Regions from separate parts of the Homo sapiens genome. Here region 2 is linked to region 1. Evidence: fine-mapped expression QTL. A gene starts in region 1. The other region holds a variant in brackets. All regions are shown on one strand. Distances are between the middles of the regions.

Region 1 (5,381 bases):
TCCATTTACACTGATTGGCAATCAGTACATAATGCAAAAATTTCCAAATAATTCTTTGTGGAGGCAATGTGGTGAGAAGACAAGCACCCTGAAGCACCAAGGCTGTGGTCACAGCTTTCACTAATTGGCTGTATGACCTTAGGAAAAATCGCTTTCTTAACAATTCTTCACTTGTGAAACCAAGTTTGCACCAAATAAGTGATTTTCATTCTTTTTTCACTGTGATCTAGTTAGAAATACATCATAAAGGTGGCAATATTTACTACATAGAACACATTATTTTCTCCAAAACAATTCTTAACACTACTCACGGGTGATAGGATGACTTTTGTTCTCTTTTTAAAAAATTGCTTGTTGTAACCCACAAAACTGATTTCAAGAGCCATAGAGTGGCAATCCTAACTTTGAACAACACTAGAGGATCTTACTTTTTTTATCCCTCAATATTCTAAAAATTAAAGTGTACTTGAGATGTAGAAAAACAGTGTATAGAAAAACAGCCCCATTCTTGCTGAGTCTCTTTTACCATCCTCAGCTTGTCATCAAGTTACAAAAGTCAAATATTCTGCATCTCCAGATGATAAGGTCCAATAGAAAATGGCCCAGGCTGGATTCCCCCACCCCCAAGATATTCAGCAGGAGTTAGCCTTGGTACTTAACATCTCTAAGCCCCAGTGACCTCATCTGTAAAAGTGGGATAACAATACAGATTTTATAGGTTGTTCTAAGAATAAAATGAGATCCTGGATGTGAAACTGCTGACAGGGGTGATGAATTCTGAGTTCCTCAGGCTGTGACCTTCAGGCATGTTTTGCTTTGCACAGTGAATAACTTTGCCACTGTCCCTACCACTCCTATAATCATCAGTCTTATTTTAAGGTCTCATACTTTTCTTTTTTAATTACTTGCCCATCAAAGTCAGATTTATCTTGATATTGTTTATTGTTTACGGTTATGACACATTATATATATACACACACACACATATGTATATAGTTACGTACACACACACCAATGGCACTGATTTTGGTACACATCAGAATTACTTAAGAGAGTTTGTTAAAAATGGAGATTCTGGAGCCCCACTCTGTGAGTCTGGACGATAGGTCCTACATTTTTAAATGCCCCTGCCTGCCCCCAAGGTGTTTTTATACAGATGGTAGACTCACTCTGAAAAACACTAGAACATACATTCTTAAAATATCAAACATTGAATTCTGGGTATGATCATTCTTTTTTGGTCAGGGACAAGAAAAAAACTGTCAAAGACAACTGAGATTTTGAGTCCAGGTAGCCGGAGGAGGAAAAGTAATACTTACAAAAATAAGGACTGGAATGAAAAAGGAAGATGATGGAATACAGACTGCTTTTTGAACTGCTTTATGCATTTCATATTATGAAAAGAGTATTTTTCCTAAAATAGGTGAATTGCCATGCTGACCGTAACTTTTAGGCTGAGACAAAACAATATTCAATTAGAATTCTAATTTCCATTAGAAACTGGTAAGTGTAAACCCCAAAAGGCTTACAGAAAAAGTAAATCACAAAAATACAAGCTTGTAAAGCAGTGTTCACATTAACCTCAGCGAAAACTTTTAGGATTCAAGGTATGAGGCAAAAGTCATAATGGTTGTCAGGTTCAGGAGTTTGGAAGCGCATATAGTGCCTCATCTGCTGTTCCCTAGTCTTTCTCTTGATTTCCATCATCTGCCCTACAAACCTTTCTACATCATCTCTCGCTTCATTGTGCTCAATATGCCTATTAGGTATGGCCCATCGAAAATTAGGGACAAGTCGCCTAACTCGCCCCCGCCTGATATTTCCTCCAGGCTTCTGGCCTTCACCCCCTCCCAAATGGCGGGATTCTTCTTCATTCTGCGTGGGGGCCTGCTCCCCTCCTTCGTTTTCTTGTTGGGCATTTTCCCCGTTGAGATTGTTTGCCGCTAGTTCCTCTTTGGACTCCATTACTCCTAGGAGACAAGAGAGAGAAAATGGGCTGAATTCTTGGTGGACTGATAAGCACTGAGGACAGAGGCCCTACTAGGCACCTTTTAAAATTCAGAGCCCTGGACTTGACTTTATACTCTAACATTTCATTTTTTTCCACCTGAGAAGCCAGTATGCCCTGTGGGGTGCCCTCAATCCGAGCCCCTCCCTTCCGCAAAGCCCACCATTTTCCCTGTAGATCCATCTCCAGGCTTCCGCAGGCAGCAAAATGGAGGACGAGGATGGCGTGTGGGAAGGGGAGGGTTGCATGGGGTAGAGGGGGGCGAGGGTGAAGGCATGGATTAGGGTCTCAGACTGGGCTTTCCTCACGTTCCGGCCCCCGCCTCACCACCGACCCTCGCACCGACCTGGGCCTATCCTTGCAGTCTCCTCCTCCGGATTCTTGACGCGAGGTGCGCCGCCGCGACACTTAGCCCCGCAGACCTGCAGACTGCCGGGGTGGGGGAAGTGGGGGCTGCTGCAGCAGAACGCTAGCTAGGAACTACCGCCATCCGGCCCCTCCCCCGCCCCGCCCCGAGGCCCTGGCCCTGGCCCTGGCCCTGGCCCTCCTCGCCACCCTCGCCCCCCGCCTCAGCCGCCCCGCCCCGCAAGCTGACCACCATTTTCTGCACCAAGAAGTGCGGGGCAGGGGTGTCGGAAAAGCTTGCGCTGATGGCGTAGGCAGGTGTTTCCGAAGGGTCGTAGCCCCAGGACCGCCGGCTCCCTCCGGGCCGGGCACCTCTCCGCTCAAGGAAGGCTCGCGGGCCCGCCGCGGGGCCCGGGGGCTGCATCGCGGACCGATTGCTTCTCCGCACGGCTCCCCCGGGGTGGGCATCCGCAGGCCGGAGCCACTCCCTCACACCAACCCCAGGGACCCCCCGCCGGGTTCCTTACCTGCTCCCCCTCCGCTTCCTAATTTCGGGGCCGCCCCTGGCCCACACGTCCTCAGGGCCACCGGGAGCAGGTACCACCGCCGAGAATGGAACGAGCCACGACGGCTCTGACGCCAGAGCGAGACAACACTCAGTGTTGGCCGGTCACGTGGGGCTGTTGTCATCGCCAACGGCTCCGCCCCCGTCCCACGCCCCCTCCTGCAGCCCGGAGTCAGGCGGGGCTTTCGGGTCAGCCCCTATCCTCATCCGGAGTCTCTTTTAGTATCTCCAGACTGGCCGGCCCTTCCACTCTCCTGTCTTTGTGTATTCTTGGGACTTCCTCTGCCTCCCCAAGAGGGAAGCTGTCTTCTCAGGGAGCTGTTGGCCATTCCCACTTCTGTGGGGACTTGCCTCTCCCTGTCCTGGGCTCCCAGGATTTTCCCCACATCTCCCAACCAGGACGCGGGCGCAGAATTTAAAGGGGTGCAAAATTCCTCAGCAGTCAAGAAAAATAACATTTTAATGCAACATTTTAAAAAACAATTATTGCAAGAAAATTTATGATGAGCAAGATGTCAAAAATTTAAATAAAGAGAGCATCAGTCCCGCCCACCCCAATGGCAAACTGTGGTACTTGTTACCAATGCTCATCCTTTTCTCCACACCAGAACGTTTGGGGGGGGACAGGAAATGAGTCAAGGACAGTGGATTTTTTTTCTAATTCTTCTTAATACCTTTCTGTTCTGTTCCTTTTTTTGGGGGGTGGGGCAGAGTCTCGCTCTGTCGCCCAGGCTGGAGTGCAGTGGCGCGATCTCGGCTCACTGCAAGCTCCGCCTCCCGGGCTCACGCCATTCTCCTGCCTCAGCCTCCCGAGTAGCTGGGACTACAGGCGCCCGCCACCACGCCCGGCTAATTTTTTGTATTTTTAGTAGAGACGGGGTTTCACCGTGTTAGCCAGGATGGTCTGGATTTCCTGACCTCGTGATCCGCCCGCCTCGGCCTCCCAAAGTGCTGGGATTACAGGCGTGAGCGCCCGGCCCCTTTTTTGTTTAAGAAACAGTCTTTATAGTTTAACTTTATCTTAACTTTAATGGAAAATTTCGAACATTTGGAAAAATGGAATAGTATAATGCAAACCCCATGTACTAGTCCTCACTCAGATTCCACAGTTAACAACTCATGGCCAATCTTATTTCGTCTTTATCTTACCCGCTTCCCAACCTTAAAATTATTTCTGAAGCAAATTCTAGACATAATATCACTTTAGGCATAAATATTTCAAAGTATGTATCTACAAGATAAGGGTTTTCTTCTTTTTAGCATATAACCACAATACTGTTGTCACATTTAATAATTCACAATTCCTTAATATCATTTTATGTCTAATCTGTGTTCAAATACCCAATTGTATTATAGTTTTTTTTAACAGTTTGTTTGAATCAAGATACAAATAAGATATGCGCATTTTGATTGGTTGCCAAATTTCCTAAATTTCTTTTAATCTGTGGGTTTTCATTTTTTAATTTTTTCTTTAATTATTGATGAAATAGTCATTTGTTCTGTATTTTCCTACAGTCTGGATCTCAGTGGTGTCATTAACACATTATCTCTTTACTCTGTGGTTCCTATAAGATGGTAACTAATTCTAGAAAAGCATCCTGGAATTTGGGTTCAATTTCAATTCAAGTTTGTCCAAGGGAAAGCAAAGACTCTTTCTGTTTTCCTCTTTTTGGGATTTTAGCTGAAATATTTCTATAAAGAGACCCTTCCTATTTTAGGTCGGGCTCCCTAGAAGCAGAACTTGGAACAGAGATCCTTATGAATGTAGTTTCTTGTAATGCTCTCTCAGGTTAAAGGAAGTAAAGGCAGCAGGACAGGGCTGGGGAGCAGGGCAGTGATGAAGAATGGGGTTTAACTAGAGATTAAGTTTAGTTAATCGCACCTGAAAACTCTGAAGCACACACAAGTCATCCCACGTTGACAGTAAGTCACTGGCTTTTTGTAGCTCAGCGTCAGTCACAGATCAAAGTCTGTAGGTGGAGCAGAGCATAGTCTCTGGAGCAAGGTGGCTCCCATTTGGCAGAGAACAATTCCCTGGAGAAGAGGTAAAATGTGAGTTGTATGGCTCAGGCCTGTAATCCCAGCAATTTGGGGGGCTGAGGTAGGAGGATTGCTTGAGCCCAGGAGTTTGAGACCAGCCTGGGCAACATAGGGAGAACCCCATCTCCATACACACACACACACACACACACACACACACACGCATACACACACACAAATTTAGCTGGGTGTGGTGGCACGCAACTTTGGTCCCGCCTACTTGAGAAGCTAAGGAGGGAGAATTGCTTGAGCCCGGGAGGTCAAGGCTACAGTGAGCTATGACAGCACCACTGCACTCCAGCCTGGACAACAGAGTGAGACCTTGTCCCCTCACTCCTCCCGAAAAAAGATGTAAGTTGTTATCAGCCAACACACACAGCCAGGGAAGGTTTCATAGGTATATGACTTGTGCTGTGGCACAGG
Region 2 (5,381 bases), 170 kb before region 1:
AAAACTAAAAATAATGCTACCATATATCCAGCAATATCAAAAGGAAAGGAAATCGGTATATTGGAGAGATATCTGCACTCCCATGTTTATTGCACCACCATTCACAATAGCCAAGTTATGGAATCAACCCAAGTGTCTATCCAAGGATAAATTGATAAAGAAAATGTGGTACATATACATAGTGGAATATTATTCCACCATAAAAAGAATGAAATCCAATGATTTGTGACAACATGGATGGAACTAGAAGACGTTATGTTAAGTGAAATAAGGCACACATGAAAAGACAAATGTCATATATTCTCACTTTTATGAGAGAGCTAACAAAATTAATCTCATGGAGATAGTGAACAGAAACACTTTTCTGAGAAAGAGAAAACTATCACATCTAGTATATGATGTATCCCAAGGTGAGAAATGTTGAAAATTTTTCAAAAATAAATCCTAACATAGAATAGGATAATTTAGATCCCATGATATATGCATTACTAGGTTCTCTAGCATTTTGACACATTTTCTTACAGTCTTTCTCTAGGCATATTTGTACTCAATATAATTGTGCTTCCATTGTACCACCAGTGGTTCTCCAGTATTAGTGTGCATTAGAATCTCTCAGGGGAGCATGATAATAATGTATGTTTTGGGACCCAGTTAGAAGTATATTTGAATCATGTAATATTGGGGAAGGGTGACAAATTCTATGTTGTTAACAACAAAGACAGGAGATTGTGAAGCAGGCAGTCTGTGTGAAATGCTTCAAAAATCACCAATACATACTGACATGGACTCCTTCCTCCTAGACCAAAACTTTAGTCAGTCTTCGAGCCTTATTTTTTTCAACTGGGCCTCTATTTCGCCAACTGAGCCCAGTTTTAGCAAAAATCCTGCTGAGTCAGTTTATCAAGAATCCTCCCACCTTTGCCATCCAATCAAGCTCTTCTTCTGCCACTTTTGATGTCTAATCAAGTTCCTCCCCTTCCCCTGATAACTAACCAAATTTCTTACTAGTTTTCCACCCTTTCCCTCACCTTTCCCAGTGGCCATAAAATCCCAGCTGTCTCAGTAGTATTTGGAACTGAGTTCAATCTCTCTCCTCTCTTGCAAGAGTCTTGAATAAAGTCTTCCTTGCTGTTTTTTAAAAACAAGAATCCAATGCAATGTTTATTTTATAATACAATGCTAATTTTTTTTCATTTTTAATTTGCTGTGTCAAATTAAATTTGCTGTAGGAAATGCAAGTCTTTGCTTCTAGAGAAATGAAGTGACTTGCCTGCTGTTCTTTCGTGAAGGGCAGAACTGGGCTAAGGATTTGAGGATCCCCACAGACTTACAATGACCACATTAAACATTTATTCAAGGTTGGCATGGGGGCTTATGCCTGTGATCCCAGCACTTTGGGAGGCCAAAGTGATAGGACTGCTTGAGCTCAGGAGTTCAAGACAGCCTGTGTAACATAGCAATACCTCGTCTCTATTAAAAATAAAAAAAAAAAATTAGCTGAGTGTGGTGGTGCACATCTGTGTTCCCAGCTACTTGCAAGGCTGAGGGTGCAGGATTGCTTGAGCTGGGGAGACTGAGGATGTAGTGAGCTATGATCATGCCACTGCACTCCAGGCTGGGCGACAGAGCAAGACCCCATCTCAAAAACAAACAAACAAAAACAGAATTTACCTAAGGCATACCAGAATTTCTGCTCCTAGATAGATGAAATTTTTCTCCCACATGAAACAACTAAAAAGTTGGATGAAATACAAGAACAAGCTGTTCTCAAGACCTTAGACAACAGGCAACAATGTTTAGTGATCCCTGAGAAACTGGGAACAAATGAGGTTATTCTTATGATTGTGTAATGCCCAACCTGGTTTTTACTAACTCTGTTTTTAGACTTTCCCTTTTCCTTTAATCACCTAGCCTTGTTTCCAACTGAATTGACTCTCCCTTAGCTAAGAGAGCCAGACAGACTCCATCTTGGCTCTTTCACTGGCAGCCCCTTCCTCAAGGACTTAACTTGTGCAAGCTGACTCCCAGCACATCCAAGAATGCAATTAACTGATAAAATACTGTGGCAAGCTATATCTGCAGTCCCCAAGAATTCGTCCGATTGATAACACCCAAAGCCCCGCGTCTATCACCTTGTAATAGTCTTAAAGCCCCTGCACCTGGGACTGTTTACTTTCCTGTAACCATTTATCCTTTTAACTTTTTGACTACTTAACTTCTGTAAAATTGTTCTAACTGGACACCCCC[C/G]CTTCCTAAACCAAGGTATAAAAATTAATCAAGCCCCTTCCTCGGGGCCGAGAGAATTTTGAACGTTAGCCGTCTCTTGGTCGCCGGCTAAAAAAGGACTCATAATTCGTCTCAAAGTGTGGCATTTTTCTGACTCGCTCGGGTACAACAATTGCCCCAGCTTACTTCCTGAAGAAAGTTTTCAGGCCACAGTGCAAGAAGTAGGAATCCAGGCAAAGCCCTGTGGTATCCCAGAGCTTAGAATAAGAAGTTGGGAGTCCAAGGAGGGCAAGGAAGCTGGAGTTCACAGGGCTGTGTCCCAGAAAGGAAAGAGCTGCACAGAGAAGGAATTCCAGAGATCCATGGAGAGCCACTCTTGAATATTTACCTGAGTACTCTTAAATAATAAACAGGCACATTAAAATTTTGAAGAGTTTATTTGAGCAGAGTTTATTCATGAACAGAACAATGCCAAACTGCAAGTGGTTCAGTGTTCCACCAAGGGGGCATGTGAGGGAAATCTTTTATAAAATGTTTTCTAAAGCAAAGCAAAGAAAAGATTTGATTTGTAAAAGTGAAAGGTTTCTAGTTAGTGGTTAATAGGCAGCTTTTGATTGGTAAAGTCTCTAGTTAGAGGTTAGTTGGCAGTTTTTAATTGGTGATGCTTAAATTTTATTTTCCTAGGCTATGACCATTCACTATGAGTTGGGTTTCAGTTTGCTTCCATAGAAACTCTAGTTTGCTAGAGTCACCTCAGTCTAATGGCCTGCCAAGTATTTTAACTAGTACTGATCATTCTGATCATCACATGTCTGTAGGGAAACTACCCTAGATCAGGAAATGATCTACCGAAAAGGATTAAAGGAAATAATTCCTTAAGTTCACACATGTTTGGGAACAGTGCATGTTCCCACTAGCCAGACTTGGAAACCTCATAATTCATAGGACATCAGATAGAGTACTCAGAAAGAATTTTCCTCATTAGTGGAGAACGATTCACTCTAAACTAAACACAACACTGATCCTTTCTTACAAAGTTTTAAAGCAAGAATCTAAAATACCAAACTTTACAAATAACTGTTTTCCAGAATAAAAATCAATATAATTCCAGGGATACGAAAATATCCAGCACTCAATAGGTGAAACTTACAATGTCTGACATCCAATCAAGAGCCTACAAAGAAACAGGAAAATAAAACCCATCATGAGAGAAAAAGCAACCAATCAAAACTGACCCAGAAGTGACAACAATGGTAGAATTAGATAAGGACATAAAAGCAGATAATTAGAACTTCATTGCATATGGTCAAGAAGCTAGAGGAAAGAGTGAATAAGTTAAGTAGAGACATGGAATATAAAAAATATTTAAAAGGCTCAAATTAAACATCTAGAGATAAAAACTACAATGTCTGAAATGAAAAAATATACTAAATGAAGTTAATGGCAGATTACACATTGTAGACGAATAGTATACCTGAAGACATAGCAAAAGAAACCATTTGAAATGAAACACAGAGAGAAAAGACTGAAAAATTAACAGAGCATTAATTGTGGTTGTGTGACAACCATATTGATAGTCACTTGAAGTGGAAATTGTCTTAGCCCTCTAATTACATGACAGAGATTGTCAGAGTGGATAAAAAAAAACAAGACTCGGCCCCTAATATCCTATAACCACAAATATAAGCTGAGCAAAAGGCCTCTTTTGCTAAAAATATAAAACATACCATGGTCCAAGCATCACTAAGACAGTACCCAACAAAGCTAGTACAACTGTAATTCAAGTAGGTCTTTATGCACACCTCTGTAGGATATAAACTGGGACATTAGCACATTGAGGTGTCTAGAGAAATCTGTAGTGATCAAGGCCAGTGGAGAGTGCAGAACTGGGAGAAGTGGGTGGGTCATCATAGCTGAGGGATGGAGTGGGACTGTGACATAGTTTGGCTACTACTCCCAGCAGCTGAAGGGGATCTGAGGTACTTGGATTCTGAATGTGCAGGTGAAAACATGAAGTCATCCAACACCATTCACTCACATGCTCTTTATCTCCTTTGGGTCCCACAGCAGCCCTGGAAATTATCATCTCCATTTTACCAATGTATGGTAAACACTAATGCATTACCATGGCAATAACTACTAAGTTTACATAATCAGCGAAAGGATCCAGAACTAGTTTGAAATTCATTATTCTTTTTCAACAAATTTTCCACCCTTTTAATGACTGACACATTAGTTTGCTTCCTCTTTTAAAAATCAAATTTTAATTACAAACTAAGTAATATGTATTAATTTAGGGAAAAAATAGACAACAACTTAAAATTAATTGATACTCATGTGATCTTAGGAAAAGAAACAAGATGTTGAAGAAAATATTTTAAAACTTTCTTAATACAGTTTGTCTTCTGCTCAAAGCAACAACAAAAACCACTTTAGAATGCATTACTTTACAATCAGAAACACAAAGTTCATTTGTGTGAAAACAAATTTTTTTTTTTTTGAGACGGAGTCTTGCTCTGTTGCCCAGGCTGGAGTGCAGTGGCACCATCTCGGCTCACTGCAAGCTCCGCCTCCCAGGTTCATGCCATTCTCCTGCCTGAGCCTCCCGAATAGCTGGGACTACAGGCGCCCGCCACCACACCCGGCTAATTTTTTGTATTTTTAGTAGAGACGGGGTTTCACCGTGTTAGCCAGGATGGTCTCGATCTCCTGACCTCGTGATCCGCCTGCCTCAGCCTCCCAAAGTGCTGGGATTACAGGCGTGAGCCACCACACCTGGCCAAAAATGATTTTTTTAAATGGGCATACATCTGAAGATTTCTCTCTTCATATGAAACTCAGCAAAGTTTATTTTTATTAAATTGGAAATATTTTCCAACAGAGTAAATTTCTAAACATGCTAATTGTGACTTTTCAAATGTCTGGCAAAAATTTTTTAAAAATTAGATTTTCAAGTTTATAGGGATGCCTTATTTATTGGGTTATGTATAGTTATATCACTTAGAAAGCATTCCAGCTGGTTACACATGAAATATTGACTACATAACATGCTATCTTTCTGAAATTTAAAAACTGGACTTTTCCAAACAAAATCAGTATATTTACTACATAATACATGTGATGTCAGGAAAGGAGACAGAGTAGACGTGGAATTT

The links.
Region 2: its variant is fine-mapped to the expression of BEX4 in tibial artery (GTEx, PIP 0.93).

Annotation. Positions count from the first base shown.
Region 1 is chrX:103,212,738-103,218,118 of GRCh38, reverse strand. BEX4 (brain expressed X-linked 4) reads right to left here and starts at 3,011. Exons shown (of 3, transcript NM_001080425.4): 1 at 2,881-3,011; 2 at 2,355-2,437; 3 at 873-1,970. The coding sequence starts at 1,965. The coding sequence ends at 1,603.
Region 2 is chrX:103,382,052-103,387,432 of GRCh38, reverse strand. No RefSeq gene overlaps it. Among named protein-coding and RNA genes, the nearest start is that of BEX3, 8.2 kb to the right of the region's middle. The variant C/G (reference allele first, on the strand shown) is at 2,248.